Homo sapiens: one gene and its partners. The protein of the gene in region 1 purifies or fractionates together with the protein of each later gene. This does not show direct contact. Each region holds a gene or a part of one and is shown on either strand. Other genes may lie near its edges.

Evidence for each region.
Region 2: the proteins of ADA (region 1) and ADORA2A purify together in Homo sapiens (affinity purification with western blotting, with the first as the bait; one study listed by BioGRID). This does not show direct contact.
Region 3: the proteins of ADA (region 1) and APRT fractionate together in Homo sapiens (co-fractionation; one large-scale study listed by BioGRID). This does not show direct contact.
Region 4: the proteins of ADA (region 1) and GPI fractionate together in Homo sapiens (co-fractionation; one large-scale study listed by BioGRID). This does not show direct contact.
Region 5: the proteins of ADA (region 1) and CLIC4 fractionate together in Homo sapiens (co-fractionation; one large-scale study listed by BioGRID). This does not show direct contact.
Region 6: the proteins of ADA (region 1) and GLOD4 fractionate together in Homo sapiens (co-fractionation; one large-scale study listed by BioGRID). This does not show direct contact.
Region 7: the proteins of ADA (region 1) and ACP1 fractionate together in Homo sapiens (co-fractionation; one large-scale study listed by BioGRID). This does not show direct contact.

What each region holds. Positions count from the first base shown.
Region 1 is NC_000020.11:44,634,700-44,638,199, forward strand, and holds part of ADA (adenosine deaminase), read right to left. Parts: intron 1,590-3,500; coding exon 1,528-1,589; intron 1-1,527.
Region 2 is NC_000022.11:24,434,099-24,437,598, reverse strand, and holds part of ADORA2A (adenosine receptor A2a), read right to left. Parts: intron 1-3,500. UniProt on the Homo sapiens protein: Receptor for adenosine. The activity of this receptor is mediated by G proteins which activate adenylyl cyclase.
Region 3 is NC_000016.10:88,809,129-88,813,193, reverse strand, and holds APRT (adenine phosphoribosyltransferase), read left to right. Parts: upstream 1-1,265; 5' UTR 1,266-1,294; coding exon 1,295-1,374; intron 1,375-1,537; coding exon 1,538-1,644; intron 1,645-2,637; coding exon 2,638-2,771; intron 2,772-3,045; coding exon 3,046-3,124; intron 3,125-3,353; coding exon 3,354-3,496; 3' UTR 3,497-3,855; downstream 3,856-4,065. UniProt on the Homo sapiens protein: Catalyzes a salvage reaction resulting in the formation of AMP, that is energically less costly than de novo synthesis.
Region 4 is NC_000019.10:34,396,196-34,399,554, reverse strand, and holds part of GPI (glucose-6-phosphate isomerase), read right to left. Parts: intron 3,255-3,359; coding exon 3,125-3,254; intron 2,975-3,124; coding exon 2,898-2,974; intron 349-2,897; coding exon 220-348; intron 1-219. UniProt on the Homo sapiens protein: In the cytoplasm, catalyzes the conversion of glucose-6-phosphate to fructose-6-phosphate, the second step in glycolysis, and the reverse reaction during gluconeogenesis.
Region 5 is NC_000001.11:24,751,947-24,755,446, forward strand, and holds part of CLIC4 (chloride intracellular channel protein 4), read left to right. Parts: intron 1-3,500. UniProt on the Homo sapiens protein: In the soluble state, catalyzes glutaredoxin-like thiol disulfide exchange reactions with reduced glutathione as electron donor. Can insert into membranes and form voltage-dependent multi-ion conductive channels.
Region 6 is NC_000017.11:772,281-775,780, reverse strand, and holds part of GLOD4 (glyoxalase domain-containing protein 4), read left to right. Parts: coding exon 1-6; intron 7-3,500.
Region 7 is NC_000002.12:267,947-271,446, forward strand, and holds part of ACP1 (low molecular weight phosphotyrosine protein phosphatase), read left to right. Parts: intron 1-3,500. UniProt on the Homo sapiens protein: Acts on tyrosine phosphorylated proteins, low-MW aryl phosphates and natural and synthetic acyl phosphates with differences in substrate specificity between isoform 1 and isoform 2.

The DNA of each region.
Region 1 (3,500 bases):
AGGTCCCTGGAAGTGCGAAAAGATGGAGAATAGTGGACTTACCAGAAATCTCTCAGGGAGTTGGTGGAGATGCTCCCGAGAGTTGGGGGCAACCCCCCGGGATCCCTCATTCTCTCCATGAGGGCAGGCCTCTGAATAACAGGATTCTGGCTTATGGAGCAGAAATGTTCAAATTTGGGTCCCGAGCTGAATTTCAAGACTGTGACAGAGAGGCTGAGTTCTTTCAGCTCCAAACAAAATGAGTGTTGTGCAAACATCCGAGGAACACAGGTCTGCGGGGGCAGGGCTGGGTGGACAAGGAGCCCCTAGCTCCTAGGTCATCTCTCTAGGGAGGGCCTGTTCTTAGCCTCAGTTGATAGAGACCAAGTTCGCAGACAGGAGATAATATGTCCAAATTTGAATCCAGATCCACTGGCCTTTAAAGTCCCTGCCCTTAAAAGCTGGTCCTAAGAGAGGAGCTGCTGTGAGCCCTTGAGGTCTGGGTAGGAAGGGAAGAACCTTCCTCGCTGGGGAACAGGGGGACCCTCTGGCCCCCTAGCATCTCTGAGAGCTGAGGCAGGAAGTGTGTTCTCACTTGGAAGATGCAGAGATTTAGGCCCAGAGTTGGGGAGCCACTTTTCCGTGACTCCTAGCAGGTTATGACCCTGATGATGTAGTAAAGCCTTAGGGGTCAGACAGCCTTGGGTTCAACTCTTGATCTGCTATTAATTTGTGTGACCGTGGACAACTGTCTTGGCTGAGCCCATTCCCTCCTCAGTAAAATGCAGAGAGCGTATCCTCCTCTTCCAAGCGTGGAGGAATTCAATGAGCTGATAAAGCCCAGCCCAGCTCTAGGAGATGCTCAAGAAATTGTACTGGCATCTCATGTGAGCACATCACCTGCTATATATAGGCTCTCAGTTAAGTCAAAAGACAGGAGCCAGGCACAGTGGCTCATGCCTGTAATCCCAGCACTGTGGGAGGCCAAGCTGGGTGGATCACTTGAGGTCAGGAGTTCGAGACCAGCCTGGCCAACATGTGAAACCCCATCTCCGCTAAAAATACAAAAATTAGCTGGATGTGGTGGCATGTGCTTGTAATCCCAGCTACTCAGGAGGCTGAGGCAGGAGAATCACTTGAACCCAGGAGGTGGAGGTTGCAGTGAGCCGAGATCATGCCACTGCACTCCAGCCTGGGCGACAGAGCAAGACTCTATCTCAAAAGAAAAAAAAAAAGACGGATTCAGCCCTGGGAACTACCTTCATGCACGTATGTGGGTGGGTGGGGAGAGCAGGCTCAGGCCTGGCTCACCTGACACCAGGAGGACAAGACTCAGAGGCCCAGAAAGCTCAGGAGTTGGTCTGCGGGTCTCCAGCTCAGTGCTGAGGCCTCCATGTCCTCACAGTCCCACTTCTGGCCTGGAGCTGGCTTGATTCCCACAGGGAGACAGGAAGGAACAGTGACCCTGGAATTCCCCAGGGGCCTCTGGGTGGAGCTGGGGACCCCACTCAAATCCCAGGGAGAGAGGGCTCTTCTGTATGGACTTACCTGCCATAGTATAAGATGGTTTCAGGCTTGATGGATCCGTCTAGGTGGACATGCAGTTCCACCTGCAAGGGGGCAGGGGGAAGAGAGAGAGAAAGGGAGAGAGAGAACAAATACCTATGAGTTCACGAAGGACCTTTCAGAGCTTAATGTTAACATTAATCATGATAACCATTAGCCACCATTTTACTGGCTGGCTGCTGACCCCATATACTTCGGTAAACTCTGTACTGCACTATCTCATTTAATCCGCTCCTGGGATGTGGGTTCAGCTGTTATCTCGATCTCTTTCACAATTGAGGACACTGAGGTTCGGAGGTGTTAAATATCTCATCCAAGGCCACACAGATTGCAAGTAATAGAGGCAGGAGCCCAACCCAGTATCTTTGTTCTTAATCGCAGCTGGTGAGTGGCAGAGGCGGAATTCTAACCCAAGCCCAATTCCAAAGCTTGTGCTCCAGGTCACGTAGGCAGCTCCCGCTCTCAGCCAACTAAATAAACTACTTTAACAAAAGGGATTGACCCAGATGTCCCAAACTAGGGAAGAGTCACAGCATATTTCAAAATTCAGGATCCATTTTCGTTTTCTTTTTTTTGAGACGGATGGAGTCTCGCTCTGTCTCCCAGGCTGGAGTGCAGTGACATGATCTCCTCTCACTGCAACCTCCACCTCCTGGGTTCAAGCAATTCTTGTGCCTCAGCCTCCGGAGTAGCTGGGACTATAGGCAGGTGCCACCACGCCCAGTTAATTTTTGTATTTTTAGTAGAGACAGGGTTTCACCATGTTGCTCAGGCTAGTCTCGAACTCCTGACCTCAGGTGTCCACCCACCTCAGCCTCCCAAAGTGCTGGGATTACAGGTATGTGCCACCGCAACCGACCCAGGCTCCATTTTCAAAAGCAGATGCTACTCAAGCATAGCCTATCAGGAATCAATATTAGGCAACGGAAGATCTTTCTAGTACTCTAGAGTTTAAGAGTAGGATCCTTGGAGGCAGCCCATCTGGCTTGACTCCCAGTTCTGCTGTGTGACCTCAGACAAGACACTTGACCTCTCTGAGCCTCAGTTTCCTCAACTGAAAAACAATGGAATATTATGCCCCCGTGTCCAAGAAAAATTGTAAGGATTAAAAAGGGCAGTGTAGGTGGACATGGATAGCCCAAAGGAAACAGCCCCTGCCGCTCAGTCAGGGTGTTTACCATGAGCTGTTAGGAGAAGCACAGCAGGCAGTGGGAGATGGTGGGGAAAGGGACTTTGCTGTTCCTGCTGTTCCTGTTCCAAATGATGGAAGCTTTCCCCCTAGCTAGGGGAGATCCAGAAAACTCTCAGCTGACATCTCATGCTGGGGTGGGGAGCATGGAGAGCTGGATAAGAAAGTTGGCTGCCCTGGCTCAGGGAGGAACAGCCAAGGAGCTGCTGGCCCAAGGGCGTCTAGGAGCACATACATGAGCTGCCTCCTGCAGAGGAAACCCAACCCAGGCCCAGGGGAGGCCAGCAGGGAACAGAGACACCAGAGGTCCTATCAGCAGGACCTCAGAGTCATCAGATCTCTCCTGAGGTCATCCAGCTGGCAGGGGACAGAGCGGTCTTCACACCCAGTCTCAGGGCCAACTTAGTTGTTGAATTCCCTGACAAAATGAGTTCAGTTCCCACCCAGCCAAACGTCTGTTTCTCGGGTTCTCAAAATATGCTCAGCATTGGGAATACTGAAGCTTATAGCCCAGGGAACGGCCAACCAGCTGTGTGACCTCAGGCAAGGGACCTCAACTCTCTGAGCCTCTGTTTTCTATCCTTAACCCTCACAGGGCTATGGAGAGGGCCCAGCCAGAGAGCCGGAGTCACACTGTATAGAGCATCATGCGGTTAGAGCTGGAATCTCGGCTCCTCCACTCACTCCCTGCTTGACCCTGAGAAAGTCACTTCACTTCCTGTGCCTCGGCATCCTCATCTGTTAAGTGGGGAGAATGGCAGTCCTT
Region 2 (3,500 bases), on another chromosome or scaffold:
ATACTCTTTTGTTCCTTTTTAATGTTTTAGAGTGGGCAAAACATGACTTTTTTTTTTCTTAAATTGCAAATAGACTAAGTTTATTCAAAAGAAATCTCCATAGGCTGAGAGCCCTGGACCCTGGTGCCCACGGGGTGGGGACAGCATCAGGGCCCAAATGGAATCACAGCTGAGCCTCAGCCAGGCCCAGCAGCATATCCTGGGCTGCATCTGTGACCAACACACTCACATCTTGCCGTCTTAGACCCCAAACATTGACCATCCAGCTGGAAGGGATGCCAAGGCTGTCTAGCGTGACACACCACCACTCTGGGGTGCCCAGGCATGTCAGAGAATGTGGGTCCCAGAGCTGCTGCCCACCCTTTGTGGAGGTGCCCTCTGCAGCTCTGTGTCCCCCGGCTTGCAGGCTGCCCCTTTCTGGGGATCTCCATTACCCACACTGGGGGCTCACCCTATGGTCCAAGAATATGCCCCATGATTCCAGCTGGGGCTTTATGTGCACATGTCCCAACCTGAGGAGTAGGTGGAGCCTTCCTAAGTTGTCCAAAGGAGTCATTGATCCAAGAATTGAAGAGCCATGGACCCACAGGGAAACCTCCATTCCTTCCCCTGGTACGAACAGGCCTGACTTGGCCTCCACCTTTCCTGCCCACTCTGTTCATCTCTCTCTGTCACTAGGCAGCCAGGCCACCCTTCCCTACCCAGTGCTCACATGCTCATTCCTTCCTCAGGGTCTTGTCCCAGGCTTTGCCCCCCTCCTGACACACCTGCCCCCACACTCATGCCAGTGAGACCCTGCCTGCCCGTCCTGCAAGACCCACTGGGTGACACCTCCTCCAGGGAGCCCTCTCTCCCAATCCTGCCCTCTTAGAAGTGTTAGGACTTCGGGCCTCACCACCAGCTGCCACCTGCACCTTGGCCTGTTCCTCAAACCAGCGAGAACATCCACCAAGGGCTGCTGTGAGAGCCAGGGAGGGGACAGTGAGGCAAAAATCCCCTGGGAACTGGAAAAAGAAGCCTGTGTCTCTCACCCTGAATTCCCTATCCTCTGGGAACACAGAGAGCTACATCTCTGCCTCTGGCCTGAAGTCTTTCTCACAGAGTTCCTCGACTAGGCCCTGTGCTAGCCCAACAGGTTCCCTGAACTTGGAAAATAACAGATTTTTCCAAAACTGAGTTCTTTTTTTTAAAAAAAAAGTTAATGGAGAGTGGGGCAGGCCTGAGGCTAGACCCAGGGCTAGCCGAATGGACCTTTCTGAGTGGAGCAGGAAACGGCACGTAGAGGAGGCTGGATTCCCAGCTGAGAAAGGAGGAGGGAGGATCCTGAGGCAGGCTGTGACTCCAGCGCCGGCCAGGAGTGTCACCAAGTTCCTTTCATACCCCGCTTGCTCTCGGGAGCCCACATGGACACCTCCACATGCCCAGAGGCCCAGGGGCCCTGAGGAACAGGAAAGCGAAGGGACCTGCGGGCCAGGAACAGCCTGAAGGGCCCTGGAGTCCATCCACATCAGGAGACACTCGTATGTCCTTCCCTGCTCTGGCCTCCCCATGAGTTTGTGAGTAACAGGAGGGTCAGAACATCCGCCTGGCCACAATGCAGGCCAAGAGGATGACAGGAGATGCTGAGCTGACATCCTTTGGCAACTGCAAAGCTCTCTGCCCTCAAGGGAGGATGAACATCATCGTCGTCATCCTCTCCAGGGCCCCCTGCAGAAGAGACCAGCCTAAGCCTTGCAGAGCCTCATGGAGCAGAGTCAAATGGCTCAAGGTCTGGGTGGAACTAAGGTCCAGCTCCAAGGAAGTTGGGATGAGATGGGTAGAGGATAGGGGGCAGGTCCATGGCTCTGAACCCAAAGATCTGAATCCCCACCCTCCCCACGCCTCCAACCCTCCTCAGGGTCCCTGTCACCCCATCCACTCACTGGACCTTCAGAACACCTTTGTGAGCTCAGAGGGGCAGAGAGACTTGTCCTATTTTATGGATGAGGAAATGGGCCCAGAGAGAGGCAGCTAACTTTCCATAGCCACACAGCACATCCTGTCCTACTACATAGGGAGTCATTCTCTCAACTCTCAGAAAACAGAGAAGGAAAGGGAGAGACAAAAGAGAAAAAAAGTCGAGCTCCTTTAAATTGAGAACGGCAGCCCTGATCATACCCTTTGAATCAGAGAAAAAAGTGAGAGCTTGGCCTCTGCTTCCCCATAGAGCATCCCATCAGTGTGCAGACTCAGCTTGGTTCCCTGAAGTCCCCTCCAGTGCTTTGTTCTCTGGCCCACCTGGGCACCTGCAGACAGGGCCCCTCCTGGGCCTCCGTGTTCTGAGCTGCCACTGGACGAACCTAAACTCTGCTCTGCCCGTCGCAGAGCAATGGATGGAGGCTCACCAGAGACTGCACTTGGAGTCCGACAATCCCTAATTCCACCCCTCTCAGGGCTGGCCAGGGTCCCCTTCTCCTTTGCCGAGGGTTCTAGACTCTCCTGGGATAGAGAGCATCTGACAGGGCAGTGTGAGGTCCAGATTCCTCCCCTTCCCTGGAGCAGCCCAGTGCAGCTCCTGCTCCCACTTAGAGCCCAGGTGACAGGGACAGCCACCTGGTGCAGGCTCTGCGAGACAGGCTGCTCATGACCGCTCCCCAGTGACTGAAGTCACAGTGGGGATCAGGCCACATTTCTTTCCAGGACTCGCCCCAGCTCCACTACCAACTCGTTGTGTGGCCCGGAAACAGCTGGCTGTCTTCTCTGAGGCTCATTTTCCATCCCGAAGATGAGAGGAAATGACCTCTAAGGGCCCCTTGGCTTTGACGCTCTAAATTTCCATTTGCTCATCTAGCTGGGTCCTCCTTCCTGCTGGGGCACCCTCAACCTGCTGTGGCTTCCTCTTTAGATAGGCACCCACCAGTTTCAGATAATTCACCGCAGAGATGGTGCACCCTGCTCCCTGACTCTCAAGAGGCACCACCTCAAGCCTCATACATGGCCTCAGGGCCCACAACCACCCAGGCTGTGGAACCCAGCTCTGTGGCAGAGGGGCCAGGAGGTGGGGCAGAAGGCCTCTGACGTCCCCAAGGGAGGGATGCACTTTCTAGCCTCATCTATGGCCTGGGTAGGTGGAATCCATGCCGAGTAATTCAGCCTCTGGGAAAATCTTCATTTGCACAATTACTTGGCTGAAGTCACTTCACAAAAGATTCACCATAAAAATCCCCTCCAACAGCCAGCCCCTGAGCACACTGGCTGCCTCTAAGACGATGAGTCCTTGGTGACTTGAGGAGCAACAGAATTTGCATATAGGTCCAAGTGACTCACTGTGGCATTCAACCAAGTCACTTCCCCTCTCTGGGTCATTTTCCTAATGTGCACACTGCAAGGCTGGCCCAGAGGATCTGGGGGAAGGCAGGTGGCGGGCGGCTCCTAACTCTGAGGTCCTATGGTTTCCCCTGGCTCCCCACTCCACCCCAGCATCATCCGGGAAGTTTTGCTTGTGTGTGAGGAATGGCCCA
Region 3 (4,065 bases), on another chromosome or scaffold:
CATCAGACGATGGGTCCCCCACCCGCCCTGGAACCGGGGCCCCAGCAGCCGCATGCAGCCTCCGGCCTCCCCCTCCGAAGGCTCCTGGGGGCTGCCTTCCACTGAGTGGGTTTTCCCTTCTGCAGTAACTGCCAGGCCAAAGCTGAATTGTAAAAGTTGCGAAATGATGGGCCGGGCGCGGTGGCTCACGCCTGTAATCCCGGCACTTTGGGAGGCCGAAGCGGGCAGATCACGGGGTCAGGAGATCGAGACCATCCTGGCTAACACAGTGAAACTGCGTCTCTACTAAAAATACAAAAAATTAGCAGGGCGTGGTGGCGGGCTCCTGTAGTCCCAGCTACTCGGGAGGCTGAGGCGGGAGAATGGCCGGAACCCAGGAGGTGGAGCTTGCAGTGAGCCCAGATGGCGCCACTGTGCTCCATCCTGGGCGACAGAGCGAGAGTCCTTCTCAAAAAAAAGTTGCGAAATGAAGAAAAGTCTTGGAATAGAGCACAAGGCATTTTAGCTCTGGGGATTTTCTTGAAAGGAAATTGTGTTTGGGGGGAGTTATGCCTCACACAACCCCCTGGGTACCAGTCCTCGGGCGGCCAGGGGGTTCACAGCTCCCCACCCCAAGGCTAAGGGGTCACCTGGCCTCTGCAGGCGGACAGAAGGGCTTCTGCCCTCGCGGATGCGCGCCCTGGCCTGGCCACACCTTCCGGCCTCCCTCCCCCGGGTCCGGGCGGGGAAGAGCCGCCTCAACGGCAGGGCCCATCCGCGAGAGGCCAGCGCCCCCGGCCGGTCCAGCCCAGGCCCGCCGCCTCCGCCCTGGGCTGCTCCCTCCGGGCCCTGCACCGCCCTCCTGCTACTTGGACCGCTTCCTCACGCCCTTCTCCACCCCGCGCGCCAGCCTCCCGCGCGCAGCGTGGGGATCTCGGCCAATAAAGGAGAAAGGGCGCGGCCCGTACGCGCGCCAGGTGCGTGGGCGAGACCAGCTCACGCCCCTCCTCCAGCCGCCAAGGCCCCGGCCCACAGCTGCCTGGCTGCAGTCAGAAGCGTAGCCCGAGACAAGGAAGGGCGCCTTGACTCGCACTTTTGTCCGGTTCGAACGTTCTGCTCAGTGGTGCGTGGAATGCGAGCGCGTCTTAAAATCGATGGCGCCTAGGAGTCCATGAAATACGGTACAGGCTTCCGGCGACGGATGCCCCGCCCCTCACCCACGCTCCGCCCTCCGGGGATGCCCCACCCCTCGTGGCGGTCCCGCCCGTCCCCGCGCAGGCGCGCTCGGGCTGCCGCTGGCTCTTCGCACGCGGCCATGGCCGACTCCGAGCTGCAGCTGGTTGAGCAGCGGATCCGCAGCTTCCCCGACTTCCCCACCCCAGGCGTGGTATTCAGGTGCACGCACAGGCCGCCCTCGTGGCGCCCCGACCTGCGGGCCTACGGATGGGAGCGCGTGGCCCGCGACCTCCGGGCGGGCGGGGCGGGAACCCTCGTCTTTCGCCCCCGGGGCCCTGCCCTCCTTCGGCCCCGGCGTCACCAGGCCTGTCCTTGGGTCCAGGGACATCTCGCCCGTCCTGAAGGACCCCGCCTCCTTCCGCGCCGCCATCGGCCTCCTGGCGCGACACCTGAAGGCGACCCACGGGGGCCGCATCGACTACATCGCAGGCGAGTGCCCAGTGGCCGCATCTAGGGCGCTTCCGCCTCTGCGCGCGCCGAGGGCAGCACGTGGGCTCTGCGCGTCTGCTTGGGGGAGGGCCTTTGGGGTGCTTCAGGGGGCGCCGGGACGGGCGCCGTGCTTGGGTCGCCCGGGAAGGGTTGTGAGATTGAGCCCCCGAGGCCGCCGCGCTGTGCAGGCGTCCTTCCCGCAGGTTCCGGGTCCCCAGCCCAGGACAGGCGTGACCGAGTTGCCGGGTCAGTTGGTCTCCCTGGAGTGCCCAAGCTGAATCCACAGGGCCCAGCTGCCTTGCTTCTTGTTCCTTCTGCGAGCTGGTATTGAGCGCCTGCCACGAGCCAGGCCTTCCCTGGTGAAGATCACGGAATGCCCACCCAGGGAAGGGAGGCCTGGAGGCCTCCGGGAGAGCCCAAGAGGTGGCCCAGGGAGAACAGAGTGTTCCTGGCCGTCTTGCCTCTCCTAGGGTGTGACAGCCCACTCCCTGGACACTGCCCTGAGGAAAGCGCCAGCTCTTGCTGGAGCCACAACACTGCCAGAGCTCCCTTCTCACCTCCTGCAGGAAGCCCTCCCTGACCTCCTGCCAGGCCGGGGCAGGGTTTCCCTGAGCGTCCCCCAACCATCACAGCTCAGGCCACCTCGAGAGACTCCCTTTTTAGACAGAAGCCCTGGTGCAGAGCTGCCTTTGAGAGTAAGCTGAGGCCTGTCAGGTTTCTACCAGCCCAGTTACAGATGGGCTGCTCAGCTCAGAGAGAGGGGTGGTGACTCCCCTAGGAACACACAGCTAAGAAGTGGTCCCTTAAAAGACAGACCCAGGTCTGCACTCTGACCTGGAAGCAGCTCCGGGTAGGTGATGGGTAACATTCCTTAAATGGTGCATGTCACTGGCCTTTCAGCTGGGAGCCAACCAGGTACCCCTTGCCACCGGCCAACCCTGGCCCCTGGGGATTCCCATGCTGCCGAGTCACTCCTGTCACTTACCCTGACAGGCCTAGACTCCCGAGGCTTCCTCTTTGGCCCCTCCCTGGCCCAGGAGCTTGGACTGGGCTGCGTGCTCATCCGAAAGCGGGGGAAGCTGCCAGGCCCCACTCTGTGGGCCTCCTATTCCCTGGAGTACGGGAAGGTAAGAGGGCTGGGGTGGCCAGAGGAAGGGCAGGGCCAGGCCACCGTGGCCACTCTCCCCCAGTTCTAAAAGGCCTTCCCAGGCGTGTCAAGTGGAGCTGCTGTGGTTACAGTGGCCTTGGGAGCTCAGAGAGGTTGAGACATAGGCTGGGCTCACACAGCCAGGTAACAGCAAGGTGGGGTTGGAGTCAGGGTCTAGGGTGGCAGCTGCCAAGCTGTGCAACAAAGCTGTTTTCTGCGGGAGGCTGAGGACCACACACCACTTCCCACTCCAGGCTGAGCTGGAGATTCAGAAAGACGCCCTGGAGCCAGGACAGAGGGTGGTCGTCGTGGATGATCTGCTGGCCACTGGTGGTAAGGGTCTCCCCGCAGCCAACTGCTGTGGCTCCAAGGGCCTGGTGGGAGTGGGACAGGACCTCGCTGTGTGACATGGGATGCAGCTTACTGTTGTCCAGAGGGTGCCTGGTGGCCAGGCCGACACCTTCCTCTCCCCATGCCTTCCCCTCCCCAACCCAGGGGCTGGCCTGGAGCACCTGCTCTCTGCAGCCCAGGCCAACTGGGGACCTCACCCTCCCATCCCCAGGAACCATGAACGCTGCCTGTGAGCTGCTGGGCCGCCTGCAGGCTGAGGTCCTGGAGTGCGTGAGCCTGGTGGAGCTGACCTCGCTTAAGGGCAGGGAGAAGCTGGCACCTGTACCCTTCTTCTCTCTCCTGCAGTATGAGTGACCACAGGGCCTCCCAGCCCAACATCTCCAGCTGGATCCCAGGGAAATATCAGCCTTGGGCAACTGCAGTGACCAGGGGCACCGGCTGCCCACAGGGAACACATTCCTTTGCTGGGGTTCAGCGCCTCTCCTGGGGCTGGAAGTGCCAAAGCCTGGGGCAAAGCTGTGTTTCAGCCACACTGAACCCAATTACACACAGCGGGAGAACGCAGTAAACAGCTTTCCCACAAGAGCCGTCTCCTGTCCTCCTGTTCCCCAGGGCAGGGAGCCCCAGGACAACACCAGACTTCAGCTGTACTGTGGGCATGTGCTGCTTGGCGTGATGCCCAGCAGAACCTGTCCTGGTTCTCACCTCAGGAGCTAGAACCCTCCAGGCACTGCAGGAAGAGGCCATGTGGGCCCATCTTCTAGGGGAGCAAGCGAGGGCTCTTCTGCAGATCTAGTGGCTGTAAGCATGACTTTATTAGAGTTTAGGAGGTCAGAAATACTGAAGTCAAGGTGTGGGCAGAGGCCAGTCCCTTCTGGAGGCTCCAGGGATGTCCTACTTGTCCTGCCCAGCTTCTCCAGGCT
Region 4 (3,359 bases), on another chromosome or scaffold:
TGCAGAAAACACCAAGGAATGTCTCCAAGAGAGTCCTGATCCCTAAACCCCTTGAAGGGAAGCACACCCTGCCCCAGAGGCTGAGACGTGCAGGTCTGTGAGGACAGGCCCTCCCATTCTGTAGGACAAGCCAGGCACGCCCCAAGCCCCTGCCTGGTGCCATAGCTTCACACCTCCAACTCCAGCATGCACCCCAAAGCCAAATGCAGAAGTGCTGACCTTATGTGGCAGCAGCCTCTCAAGGTCCTCTGGACTCTTGCCCGCAGCCTGGAGCTCCTTTCGGGCCTCCTCCGTCGATTTTCCCCTCATCAGGGCCTCTGTCTGGGCCAAGAAGTTGGCCAGGAGGATCTGATGAGCGAGACATCAGTTATGCTTGAGAGCACTGTCTGGGCTTCAGGCAGAGGGACAAGACCGCCTGGTACTTCTCAGCAGGGGTCAGTCCCAGCCTGGGTCACTCGCTGTACAGCTCAGTTGGAGCGAGGGGGACACATCCGATGACACCACAAGGCAGGGAACAGTGATAACTGCTCTTTAAGAACTACACACCAGTGGCCAGGCGCGGTGGCTCACGCCTGTAATCCCGACACTTTGGGAGGCCGAGGCGGATGGACCACGAGGTCAGGAGCTCGAGACCAGCCTGACCAACATGGTGAAACCCGTCTCTACTAAAAATACCAAAAAAAAATTTAGCTGGGCATGGTGGCGCATGCCTGTCATCAGGCAGGAGGCTGAGGCAGGAGAATCACCTGAACCTGGGAGGCAGAGGGTGCAGTGAGCCAAGATCACGCCACTGCACTCCAGCCTGGGCGACAGACCTAGACTCCATCTCAAAAAAAAAAAAAGAACTACACACCACTTGCTAGGGGTCCTGCTCACAATTTTACCAACATCTATCTTTTAAGATCCTAAGAAGGTAGCTGGGCGTGGTGGTGTGCAACTGTAATTCCAGCTACTCCGGAGGCTTAAGCACGAGAATCACTTGAACCCAGGAGGCTGAGGTTGCAGTGAGTCAAGGTCACACTACTGCACTCCAGCCGGGGCAACAAAGTGAAACGGTGTCTCGAAAAAAAAATAATACTAAGATCCTAAGGAGGAAAGGCATCATCGCCCTGTTCTAGTAGAGCCTTGGGTTCCACAAGTCCACAGTGCTGGATCACAGAACTATAGACAGGAACAATCAGAATTCAATCCAGCTCACTGACTCCCAAGATTGTGCTACCGTAACCCTGTGCTGCTCTGCACACCTGAGACAAAGCACAGTAAATTCTCTGAAGGAGTTCGAGGGCAGCTTGGGCAACATACTGAGACTCCATCTCTACAAAAAATAAAAATAAAAAAATCAGCTGGGTGTGGTGGCGTGTGCCTGTTCCCAGCTACTCAGGAGGCTGAGGTAGGAGGATTGCTTGAGCCCAGGAGGGTGAGGCTGCAGAGAGCCTGATTGTGCCACTGCACCCCAGCCTGGGCAACAGAGCAAGACTCTGTCTCTTTAAAAAAAAAAAAAAACTTAGCCAGGCATGTTGTACATCTGTGGTCCCAGCTACTCAGGAGGCTGAGATAAAAGGATTGCTTGAGCCCAGGAGTTCAAGGCTGTAGTGAGCTATGATTGGGCCAGTGCACTCCAGCCTCAGCAACAGAGTGACATGCTATCTCTAAAATAAAATAAATAAATAAAATAAACAAAAGGGGAGATTTTCCTGGATTATCTAGTAGCCCCAATCTAATCACACTGGCCCTTAAAAGTAAAAGAGGGCCAGGCACGGTAGCTCATGCCTGTAATCCCAAAACTTTGGGAGGCCGAGGCAGGAGAATCACTTGAGCCCAGGAGTTGGAGACCAGCCTAGGCAACATAGTGAAATCTGGCCTCTACAAAAAGTTTAACAGTTAGCCAGGCTGTTAGTGCCTGTAAGTGCCTGTAAGTGCCTGTTAGTGCCTGTAAGTCTCAGCTATTTGAGGGGCCGAGGCAGGAAGACTGCTTGAGCCTGGGACGTTGAGAATACAGTGAACTGTGATCATGCCACTGTAAGTCCAGCCTAGACAACACAGCATGACACTGTCACTTAGGGAACAAAAGCAAAATGTAGAAGAGGAAGGTAAACAAGTCAGAGAGATGCAACAGAAGTGGCAAGACAGAATCAAAGCTTCAGAGAAGGATTTAACCTGCCATTGCTGGTTCTGCAGTGAAGAGGCCCACAAGCTAGAGGATGCAGGTGACCTCTGAGAATCTGAGAACGACCTTCAGCCCACAGCAAGGAAGCTGGACTTCAGTTCCACAACCATAGAGAAATGAATTCTGCCAACCACCTGACAAGCAGGTCAAAGGCTTTTCCCCTAAGGTCTCCAGAAAGAAACACAGTCCTGATGACACCTTGATTTCAGCCTGCAAGACTCTAAGCAGAGACACATCAGGGCCTGCTGGATATTTGAGCTTCAGAAACTCTTCAGATAGCCCAGGAAGGTGGCTCATGCCTATAATCCCAGCACTTAGGGAGGCCGAGGCAGGTAGATTACTTGAGGTCATGAGTTCAAGACCAGCCTGGCCAACATAGTGAAACCCCCCCTTTACCAAAACTACAAAAATTAGCTGGCCATGGTGGTGAGTGCCAGTAGTCCCAGCTACTTGGGAGGCTGAGGCATAAGAATCACTTGAGGCCGGGAGGGGAAGGTTGCAGTGAGCCAAGATCGTGCCACTGCACTCCAGCCTGGGCGACAGAGCAAGACTCTGTCCCCCCTCCCCACCCCACAAAAGAAGAGTGTTGTTTTAAGCCTCCATGTTTGTTATCATTTGTTACGGCAGGAATAGAAAACTAACGTGATTGCCAACCAATGCACCAGGTTTTCAGAGGTCTGGGTGCAATGTGAGCCAGACCCCCCAGATGGGGCCAGATGGGGGCTCTTACCTTGTGATGCAGACCCTTCCGTATGGGGTGCTGGGTCTGGACCGGGATGAGGAAGTCACAGGGTATCATCTTGGTGCCTGTGAAGGGCACTGTGGTCACCCACATGACCCCAGCCCATGGGAGCTAGCCATATGGCCTAGAGGAGGGCACTGACCTAAGTGAGATATCTCTTCTGGAAGATCCTTTCCCTCCCCCAACATCACCCTTCCCAGGCCACAGGGGCCTACCTTGGTGGATGAGCTGGTAAAAAGCATGCTGGCCATTGGTCCCTGGCTCCCCCCACACAATGGGGCCTGTCTGGTGGTCCACACGGGTTCCAGATTTGGTGATGTATTTCCCATTGGACTCCATGTCGCCCTGGAAAAGGAACAGAAACCCAGTTCTTGGCAAAATGAAAGAACATTTAAAAAGAAAGAAAGAGGCTGAGCGCAGTGGCTCAAGCCTGTAATTCCAGCACTTTGG
Region 5 (3,500 bases), on another chromosome or scaffold:
CCACTGTGAACTGGGATGATCACTGTCAGCAAGTAGTCACCAAGCTGCTGGGATTGGGGTGGTGTTTGTAAAAAGTTAATCTGGTGCAGGGTGGCATAACACATAAGAGTCTGTTTCTTTTGAGATATTTGGCAGAGGTTCCTAATGTGCTTGGACTCTGGAGCCACACTGCTTGACTTGAATCTGGCTTCTAGTATGTCAGGCAAGTTTTTAAGCTCTCAGTGCTTCAGTTTCCTAACTTCTAATATCAGGATAATAATAATAGCAATTTTATATGGTTACTGAGGGGATTAAAACTGTTAATCTGTGCATATTAGTTAGGGTAGTTTAAGTTGCTGTAATAAGTTATCCCCCCACAAACAGTGGTTCAAATATGATGGAAGTTTATTTCTCACCCCTCAGTCCAGGAGAATGTCTTAGATGTTAGGGTGGCTTTCCTCCTCAGAGTCATTAAGGGACCCGGGCTCTTTCTAGCTTATTTGTCCACTAACTCCCAGAGCATTGTCCTCTTCTGAATTGTCAAAGTTGGTGGGTGACAAGTACTGTCTGTTGCCAGTGGGGGGTGGAAAATATGGAGGAAGCACATCTTAAGGGCCCCAGCTCAGAAGTTCTACCTGTTACTTCCGGTCACATTCTATTGGAGAGAACTTAATCACATAGCTTCATCTGCAAGAGAGGCTGGCAAGTGTGGTCTAACCGTATACCATCCTATGTAAAGCTTTAGGAAGAGTGCTTGACACATAGTAAACACCTGCTTTTGTCATCGATAATAGTTTATTATTATTATTTTTTTTTGAGACGGAGTCTCGCTCTGTCGCCAGACTGGAATGCAGTGGTGCAATCTTGGCTCACTGCAACCTCTGCTTCCCGGGTTCAAGCGATTCTTCTGCCTCAGCCTCTGGAGTAGCTGGGACTACAGGCGCGTGCCACCATGCTCAGCTAATTTTTGTATTTTTAGTAGAGATGGGGTTTCACCGTGTTGGTCAGGATGGTCTCGATCTCCTGACCCCATGATCTGCCCGCCTTGGCCTCCCGAAGTGCTGGGATTACAGGCGTGAGCCACCGCGCCCAGCCTAATAGTATATTATTTTTAAATGTGGGCTCTATTAGTAGGATCAGGGAGTTCTGTAAATCCTTGAAATTACAGTAAAAAATTCTAATGTGAGGCTTTTTTTCTGGAAATTCCTAAACCAAGGCTAAGAACCACTGTTCTAAAAGAAGTAAATAGTGGAATTCTTAGAGTCAAGAATACTTTATATAAGCAAGGTATAAAAGAAGGGCTTGGGCTAGATGATCACAAAGGTCTCTTCTAGTTATTATTAACTATGACTTAAAGAATGTACCGGCATGAACTAAGTGCTAATACTGAGTTAAGTACTATGGAAGATATAAGAAATTATTAAACAGTTAATTTCTTTAGGTTTACAAATTTTATTGGAAAGAAAACAATACAAGATGGTCCATGCTTAAAGAGTCAAGTGGGGCTCACATTAAGTAGGGCTAGGAGACATGGGGAAAGATGGAAGGAGGCTTAAACTTGACCTTGAAAAAGGAGGTGAATAGGTGGGTTCGGAATAGCCAAGAATGGGAATGTGAGTTTTGACATTATGTGGAAACTCCTTATGCAGGAAACAATTGGTAGATTGATACCTAAGAAGGAACCAGGAGTGATTCAGATCTATAGTGCCAGGGAGACAAGTTATTTAAAAGTTGAGGATGAGACTTTTAAAACCTAACTTGGGTTTTTGTTAATGTATACATTTTCCTAACTTTTTTCATTCTCCCCACACTTTCCTGTGTTTTTGGATTGCTGTCTGTTTAATAACTTTTCAGTGGCACTTGGGAAGGTGCAAATGGATTGTACAGATGGACTGTTTTGACAGTTTAAAGTGGGAATTCTTTATATTGTTTCAAGGACAGGCTTCAAACTTCCCCCCGTCTTTGTTTTTTCTAACAGAAAAAAATGAAATAAATTTTCTATAGGAAATGATGCTGAAAACTGTTCTGGTAATTAACAAAAGCTAACTCAATATTCAGACAATATTACCTTGAATCTAATTGATTTGCCATTCATTTGAGGTTTCCGGGGGGAAAATTCAGGAGACAGAAATGAATGTAAAGTATGAAGTTAATGAAAACCTATTATTTTAACTTTTTGCCTGAGCTGTTCCTGAAGACCTAATAATGCTACTTTTGGCAAAGGCCAAATTTGATGATTTTGGTTTAATGTAAAAACCTGTGAGAAAGGAGCCTAGAATGGGGAAGAGGCAGGAGGCTTTGAGCCTAGGAGACTGAGCACACGAAAAGCTTAACAGAGTATGAATAATGATAGGAAAGAGGCAATTGGGAGAAGAACCTGGCTGTCAGGAAATGTCACAGTTGGTTTGGGAAGATGCCTGCAGAGGTGCCTAGAAGCCAGTAAGTAAGGATGGTGAGCCATCCTTTTCCGCTTCCTGTTTCGTTAGAGCTGTGGAGCCTCCGTGTTCTGATGTCCCCTGAGTAGGGAATTGTGAGTCCATAAAAGGAAAATGTGTTAGGCAGGATGGGAAGTGTGATTAAGGCATGAGTTAAGATTTTGGTCAAGTAGAGGAGTAAGCTAGGATGGGTTTGCCTGTTTTAGACGCTTGCATAGAGAATGGAAAGGGACTTTCTGAAGGAAAATGACATTAGGTCATGGTTACCTATTGTCCAAGGATGATTTAAGACATGTAAATGTAATTTAGGGCATCAGCTAGTGAATTTTCTCATGGCTTTTAATTATATTGTCTATTTCGAGACTTGCCTCTTATCTCTCAGTGGTCAGTTCCAGATATTGGTATAAGAAATAAGAAATAACAATGATAGGCCCACTGCCATGGCTCACACCTGTAATCCCAGCACTTTGGGAGACCGAGGTGGGTGGATCGCCTGAGGTCAGGAGTTCAAGGCCAGCCTGGCCAACATGGTGAATCCCTGTCTCTACTAAAAATACAAAAATTAGCTGGGCGTGGTGGTGGGCGCCTGTAATCCCAGCTACTCGGGAGGCTGAGGCAGGAGAATTGCTTTAACCTGGGAGGCGGAGGTTGCAGTGAGCTGAGATTGTGTTACTACACTCCAGCCTGGACGACAGAGTAAGACTCCGTCTCAAAAAAAAAAAAAAAATTATAGGCTGGGCAAAATAGTGAGTCCTCATCTCTATAAAAACTAAATTTTTGTATTTTTAGTAGAGATGGGGTTTCACCATGTTGGTCAGGCTTGTCTTGAACTCCTGACCTCATGATCTGCCCGCCTCGGCCTCCCAAAGTACTGGGATTACAGGCGTGAGCTACCACTCCTGGCCCCATCTCTACTAAAAATACAAAAATTAGCTAGGCATGATGGTGCACGCCTGTAATCCCAGCTACTCAGGAGGCTGAGGCAGGAGAATCTCTTGAACCCGGGAGGCGGAGGTTGCAGTGAGCTAAGATCACACCACTGCACTCCAGCCTGGGCGACAGTGAGACTCTGTCTCAAAAAAAAAA
Region 6 (3,500 bases), on another chromosome or scaffold:
AGTCAGGTAATTATACCAGAACCAGTAAAAGCCTCTGTCTAAAGGCATCTTTGGTGAAAGGAGAGTGAGGGCTGCCTGTCTTTTTTTTGTAGAGTCTGTGTTCACGTGACGTGTCTTCCCCAGCCAGTGCTTTTACCTGTTATCGGAGAGACTACATTCTCATATCAGAACTTAAATACATAGCAGTAGGGGATCTAGACTAGTTCTGTTCTACTGGTAATGTAGTGATTTATGATTCTTTCATCTGTAAATAACAGAAAACCCAACTACTTTGAACAGTTATAGAATCTTTTAGCTCACAGAGCAGGCATTCTATAGGTGGGAAAGATTTCAAGGTTAGATGATTCACCAGCTCCCCACATTTTCTCTTTCTACGTTCTGTTGTTCTCTGCGGGTACCTCTCCTAGAACTAGTCCCCTCAAGGTTGCAGGAGAGCTGCCAGGAGCAGGTGGGGCCACATGCTCCCACAATCCCATCTGGTAGGAGAGGAGATGCTGACTTCTTTTTGCTTTTTTTTTTTGAGACTCTGTCAGTCCGGCTGGAGTGTACTGGCATGATCTCTGCTCACTGCAACCTCTGCCTCCCGGGTTCAAGCAATTCTCCTTCCTCAGCCTCCCAAGTAGCTGGGATTATAGGCGCCTGCCACCACGCTCAGCTTTTTTTTTTTTTTTTTTAGTATTTTTATTAACTTTTAAAAATTATTTGTTTTTTGAGACGGAGTCTTGCTCTGTCGCCCAGGCTAGAGTGCAGTGCTGCAATCTCGGCTCACTTGCAACCTCCGCCTCCCAGGTTCAAGTGATTCTCCTGCCTCAGCCTCTCCAGTAGCTGAGATTACAGGCACATGCCACCACGCCCAGCTCATTTTTGTATTTTTAGTAGAGACAGGGTTTCACTATATTGTCCAGGCTGGTCTTGAACTTCTGACCTCACTTGATCCGCCTGCCTCAGCCTCCCAAAGTGCTGGGGTGACAGGCGTGAACCACCGTGCCCGGCCCTTTTTGCTTTCTTTTTAGGAGCAGAAGAAAAACTTTCCTAGAATCTTCCAGCAAACTTCCTGTTCAGATTTGATATACTGTGCCTGCTCCTAAACCAATCACTGGCAAGAGAAATAGGATCACCCCCAAACCATTTAGCCATGCCTCCTCTGGAGCCGAGGTCAGTTTCCCAGACTTGAGCGTGGGTACTCAGGGATGGCATGGAAGTGAGGAGCCCCCACGCTGACTGCCACACAGAACAAGAAGGAAACTTTGCAGGGTTTGTTTTGTTGACTGCAGAGGCAGCCTCATCAGTGTTTCATTTTGTATTTAATGCCTGCAAATTCAGCTACCTGCTCTGACAAAACAAAAGCAAAAACGGGGAAAATGCTGGCGAATGGCAAGGGCACTTGTGCCGACTCCCTTACTTGGTGAACGTATGCCTGCAAGTGGGCCTGAGAAGGGAGTCCTGGAAATTCTCCTTCTTCACTGGTCGGCCTCCTGTCCCCGATGCCCCCATGCTGAGTCTGTAGAATGTTCAGTGCTCCTTGTTTATCATCCGGTGCTCAGCAAAAGAAAGATCCGTCTGTTCCAGTGTGGGAGGCTAGACTTGGCTGTGTGGGACTCGTGGAGAGATGGTGTTTCTCTGCCTCACTGGTGATTTAAAGGGTGTTGATGGTGTTTTTTTGTTGATAGGTGATTGATCCTTTGCTGACTTTAAAACTTAACGCTTGCAGCTAGCTCCACCATCCATTTTTTCTCTCCAGCCTTAGTGATATTTCAGTGCTTAAAATAATAGAGAGCCCCATGGTGCTAAGAAGCTTTTGTTCTTTGGAATGGAAATCCCCTTGGGCATTTCTGGTTGACAATGTGGTCAGACCTTCTGTCCGGCTGGCATTCATCTTTCCTTTGAATTACCCACTTCTGTGCAGCTTCACCCACGCGTTAACTTCCTGTCCTGCGTCCCTTCAGGCTCCAAGTCAACTGGGATTTGTTGATTTTGAAGTAAATGGAAAGAAAAAAATGGAGCCTGCCAGGCGGAGGCACTTGTGAGAAACAGCGTCTTAATCCCAATATTGCTGTTCTAGCAAACAGGACTAAGGCAGTAAAGCCAAAGAAAAATGTACTGAATTTATCGTAGTCAGATGGAGACGTGGAACAGCTCTTTAGAAAGTCACTTTACAATGTGAAAAGTTTCCAGTAACAGTAGGTGTTTCAATATGACTTTTATTCTTTTTACAAAATAATCAAGTTTTTTCCTTAGACAAGCAGAGAAGCTGAAAAAAAACACACACACCCATGTACCCAGAGAGAACCACTGCTGACATTTTAGAGTATATCTTTCCAATCTTTTGTCAAAAATACGTATATATAATTAAGTGTATACATTTCTGTATATCCTTTTTTAGGAGTTCCATCGTATTATTACATTGTAGGAAGAGAAACAATTCTCTATTGTTGGATATTTATGTCGTTCCTAGTGTTTTATTGTTCTAAGCAACACTGGTGAATGTCTTTGTCGTAAAAGCCCTTCATACATCCACAATTACCTTTGGAGTGGCTGAAAATGGACTTGTTCTTTCAAAAGCAATGAGCACTTTTTAAAGCTTTTGGTACATTCCATCAAACTATTGCCCAGAAATGTACTGATTTACACTTGTATTACATGATTGTGATTTTCCCCTCTACACTAACACAGTTAACACTGCCAACTTTTAACATTATTTGCACATTAGTTAACAAAGGATTTTATGTGAATTCTAATTTCTTTGTTGTTTGGGGGCGTCGGGTTGAAATTTTTTTTTTTTTTTTGAGACAGAGTCTCGCTCTGTCGCCCAGGCTAGAGTGCAGTGGCGCGCTCTGGGCTCACTGCAAGCTCCGCCTCCCGGGTTCACGCCATTCTCCTGCCTCAGCCTCCTGAGTAGCTGGGACCACAGGCGCCCGCCAGCACGCCCGGCTAATTTTTTGTATTTTTAGTAGAGACGGGGTTTCACCGTGTTAGCCAGGATGGTCTCTATCTCCTGACCTCATGATCCTGCCACCTCAGCCTCCCAAAGTGCTGGGATTACAGGCGTGAGCCACCGCGCCCGGCCTGAATATTTTTTCGTATGTTATTTGACCATTCTAATTCCTTGTTTTGTGGATTATTGCTTTGTGCCTTTTGCCTATTTTTCTAGCATGTTCATTCTTTTCCTATTGATATTTACAGGTGATTTACATATTAAGGACTTTTTGTCCAATATATTGCAGTTGTTCCCCCTACTGTGTTGTATACTCTAGTTTTGATTGTAATTCCTTTTCTTGGTTGTTGTCTAGGAGTTTTCCATTTTGTGTAATTTATGTAGCAGAAGTTTTTTCTTCATAGTTTTTCTATCTTTGGTGTCAGGTTTAAAGAAAAATCTTCCTCTACTCCAAAATTGTATAAATAATCATCTGTATCTAGTATTTTCATGGTTTCATTCTCTAAACTTATTTTTTTAACCCATCAGGAATGTATTTTGTCATTTATTTCGAAGATGTAAGTTT
Region 7 (3,500 bases), on another chromosome or scaffold:
GTACTCTACTTTTAGATTTTTTCCAACTACTCAACAATGTAAAAATTATTCTTACCGCTGTGGGCTGTACATAAAGGCAGTGGACCATGAGCCGATTTTCAGACCCCTGTTTTAGGTCCAGATCTTGGGAGGCCATGTGAAGACTTGGGCTTACTCTGAATAAACATTGGAGGGTTTTGAGCAGAGGTGGGAAGTGATCAAATTTAAGTTTAAAAAAGAAGAGTTTCAGCTGTTGTTTTGAGATGAAACTGGAGGTGGAGCATGCCTTTACTGGTTGCATTCTGAGGGAATTTGAGCGGTAAATGGCATTTTACTTGGTAGCCATATAGAGGACAGTAAGAGTTGTATGCTTTTGAAATGTAAAAAACTTTGTTCATTCAAAGCATTTGTTTGGACCCTATTGAGATTGAAGTGTAGAAAAGCATCAGAGGTTTTTCATTGGTGAAGCTAATGATGGAAAATAATTGAGCTCCTTACTACAGCACAATTATGAAGGGTGCTTTATGTTTTTGCAATAGAGACTTATTAGTGAAGATGATGCAGGAGCCATGACCCAGCCAGCATGGTTGGTGGAGATAGCACATGCTGGTGGAGTCACTTTACTTCTGGGCTACACCCATACTGGGTGCTGGGTCTCTTACCAGGTATAGCAGACACAGCCCCACCCTCCCAGAGCCTATCTGCCTTTTATGAGTCTCCATCCTTGAATTGAAGATGCTGAAGAAGGGTATAAAATAGTCTGCCTAATTTGGAAAAGACAAACTTGAGACTTTACAGATTGAAACATTTTTTAAAGGCATTTGAAGATGGAATGTTCTGTTTTTAGAACTTGTTTGATAGGCGAAACCTGAAGTACATGCAGTGTTTCACTGATGACCGGGGTGCTCCATTTTTTCATAACAAAATTTGGTGGCATCAACTTTCGAAATCAACAGGGCAAGCTACTGCTAGCCTTTAGGACAGTTAATAATGCAAGTTTTCATATTGTTGTGGGGAAAGTAAGCTGTTATTTTACAGTTAAAGATAATTATTTGTAAACGTGTGGGGCTAGTCTTTATTATATTTTTAGATGCTGAGATACTAGGCATCTGTTGTTCTACAGATCCAAAATAATAATTGTCTTAATTTGGAATACAATGTTTGCTGTTAAAAATATTCCCAGGGTATATGGTGACAAGTAAAAGAGTTACACACCCATGGGAAGCCTTTCAATAATTAAAATAGTGCTGATGACAATACCTGTTTAGAAAACTAAACAAAATTTAGAATGTCGAAAGGAAAAACTTCACAACACAAATTAGCATATAGAGGGTATTCAAGGCTAATTTGTTGTCTTTCCCTTTATGGTTTGTAGGTAAGATTTTTTACTGCTGTGGAAACTACAGTCTCTGTGGGAAAAAAGTACGTAATATGCTTAGGTCTTACAATGTAGAAACTGAAGGCTGTAGTAAGGCAGTGAGTTGGTTTTCTGAACTAGGGAATTAGCTGTGTTTTACAACACTAGAAGATCCTCATTGTATTTGTTTATCATAAACAGAAGACCCTAATAGTGATAAAGAGTAAACTCTTAGTTAGTGCTGCCTATTCTCACAGTTCCTCTTTTTCGTATCTGTTTCCTAAATTCAGCTCCTAATGTCTGGACTCAGTGTGGTGCTTTGGCATTAAGGAGACTGGAAGGCCTCAGAGCAGCCCCAGAAGCAAGGTCGTAGAAACCATCATTTATCTTCCCCAGCGCAGATCATAGAAACTAGAACTCCTCTCCTGCAAAGCAAGCCATAAAACCTAGAAAGATCACTCTCTCCCTTTTGCCTTCTCTTGAAGACAGCATTTCAGAGGGGCCCTGCCTCATTCCTGGGGGAGGAAATGCTGTGGCCCTGCTGGGTTTCCCTCAGTCTGCTACCATTGGATCATTTCCTTTTGTCCAGTGCCATTTCTACACAGCTGTGCATTGGTCATCTAAGCATCAAAACCGTTTCCCTGGGTCTTTGGGTCTTCATTTCTGAAGGCTCTTGTTAACCTGTCTTTTGTTACAGGAGTATCTTCCATGACCTTTATGATGGGTGAGGAAAGCTGCCACACCTTTCCACTCTGACACTGTCTTGTATTTGCTCCTTCATACGAGCCTCTTACAAGGTCTCTCCAATTCAGTCATGTGCTCTTCTAGTGTTTCCTTAGCTGTGCCGGTAATTTTGGTAACTTGTAGGAAGGGTCTGTGTTTTAAACAACTTTCTGTCTTCAGGTTAGGGCACAGTGCTTGGCACATAGAGTTGGCATACAAAATATGTTTGTTGAATAAGTCATATTACCCTTTTCCATAGGACTTTCTATTTCTCCTCATAGTGGCTACGCAAAGTTCAAATGTTGGCCCAGTGTTTTAGGGCTCCTGTATACCAGCCCGTCAGTTTCCAGACACTGGCTCTCTGTACCTGAAGCATCGCAGCCTCACCTGCTTAGTGCCACAATCCCTCTGAGTTAAATGCCTTTCCCTTCCTCTGTCCATTAAGATCCTGATCATCCTTTTAATATCATCTCTAATCTTTCTTTTTTCTGGTAAGAAATTTTCTTATATCTTGTTTTTGCTTTGTAGCATCGTTCTTTTTCTGTGCTGCTGTAGTGTATTGTTTATCAGCATTCATTTTCCCACTTTTATTATAATAAATATAATAAATAAAGTGGAGATAGAGTTCAGCTGAATGGCCAGTGATTCAACCCATTGTGTCTCCCTCCGAAAACCCCAATAAAACCTCAGAGCACTATGGCTCTGAGGAGCTTCCTGGGTTGGCAGTGCTCTTTGAATATTGTCTCATGTTGATGACAGGAGAGTAAGGTGTCCCAGAGGACAGTGGAGCTACCTGTTAGGGAACCTCCCAGAATGTGCCCTATAGGTCACTTGCTTTGGCTGTTTTGTTTGTTTGTTTGTTTTTGTTTTTGTTGCTGTTACTATAATGAAATTGTAATGGTAAGTGTTCTGCTTTCCTGAGTTTGGGGAGTAATTCTAGGGAATTATCAAACCTGAGGGAGCCCTGGGGAACCTGGATTTCTCACTTGCTGGTCTAAAGTAAGGATGGCCCTGATGTCGACATCGTGGTCTGGAGAGTGGTGTCCCTGACCTTGGGCTGCTAATGCCTGGATCTGTATCCCTGGGCTCAGGGCTTTGCATGTGATCGCTCAGTAAATGTTGGTGTTGAATCGCTGTTTATGCTTAAATGCATGTTTGTGTGTTTGTGTATTGTTTTGTGAAACAGTAGTCATCCTTATGTGTGATATACTTGAAAATACATACAGTTGACCCTTCAGCCACAGGGGTTTGAACTTTGAAGGATTTATTCGAGGAATTTTTTTAATCAAGCACAGATGGAAAATACCGTGTTGTCTGAATGAGAAACCCATCTGTATGGAGGGCTGACTTTTCCTATACTTGGGCTCCACATTCTCAGGGGCCAACTATAGGACCTGAGTATGCACGTTTTGGTATACTGGGTAGGGGTGGGAGGGTGTCC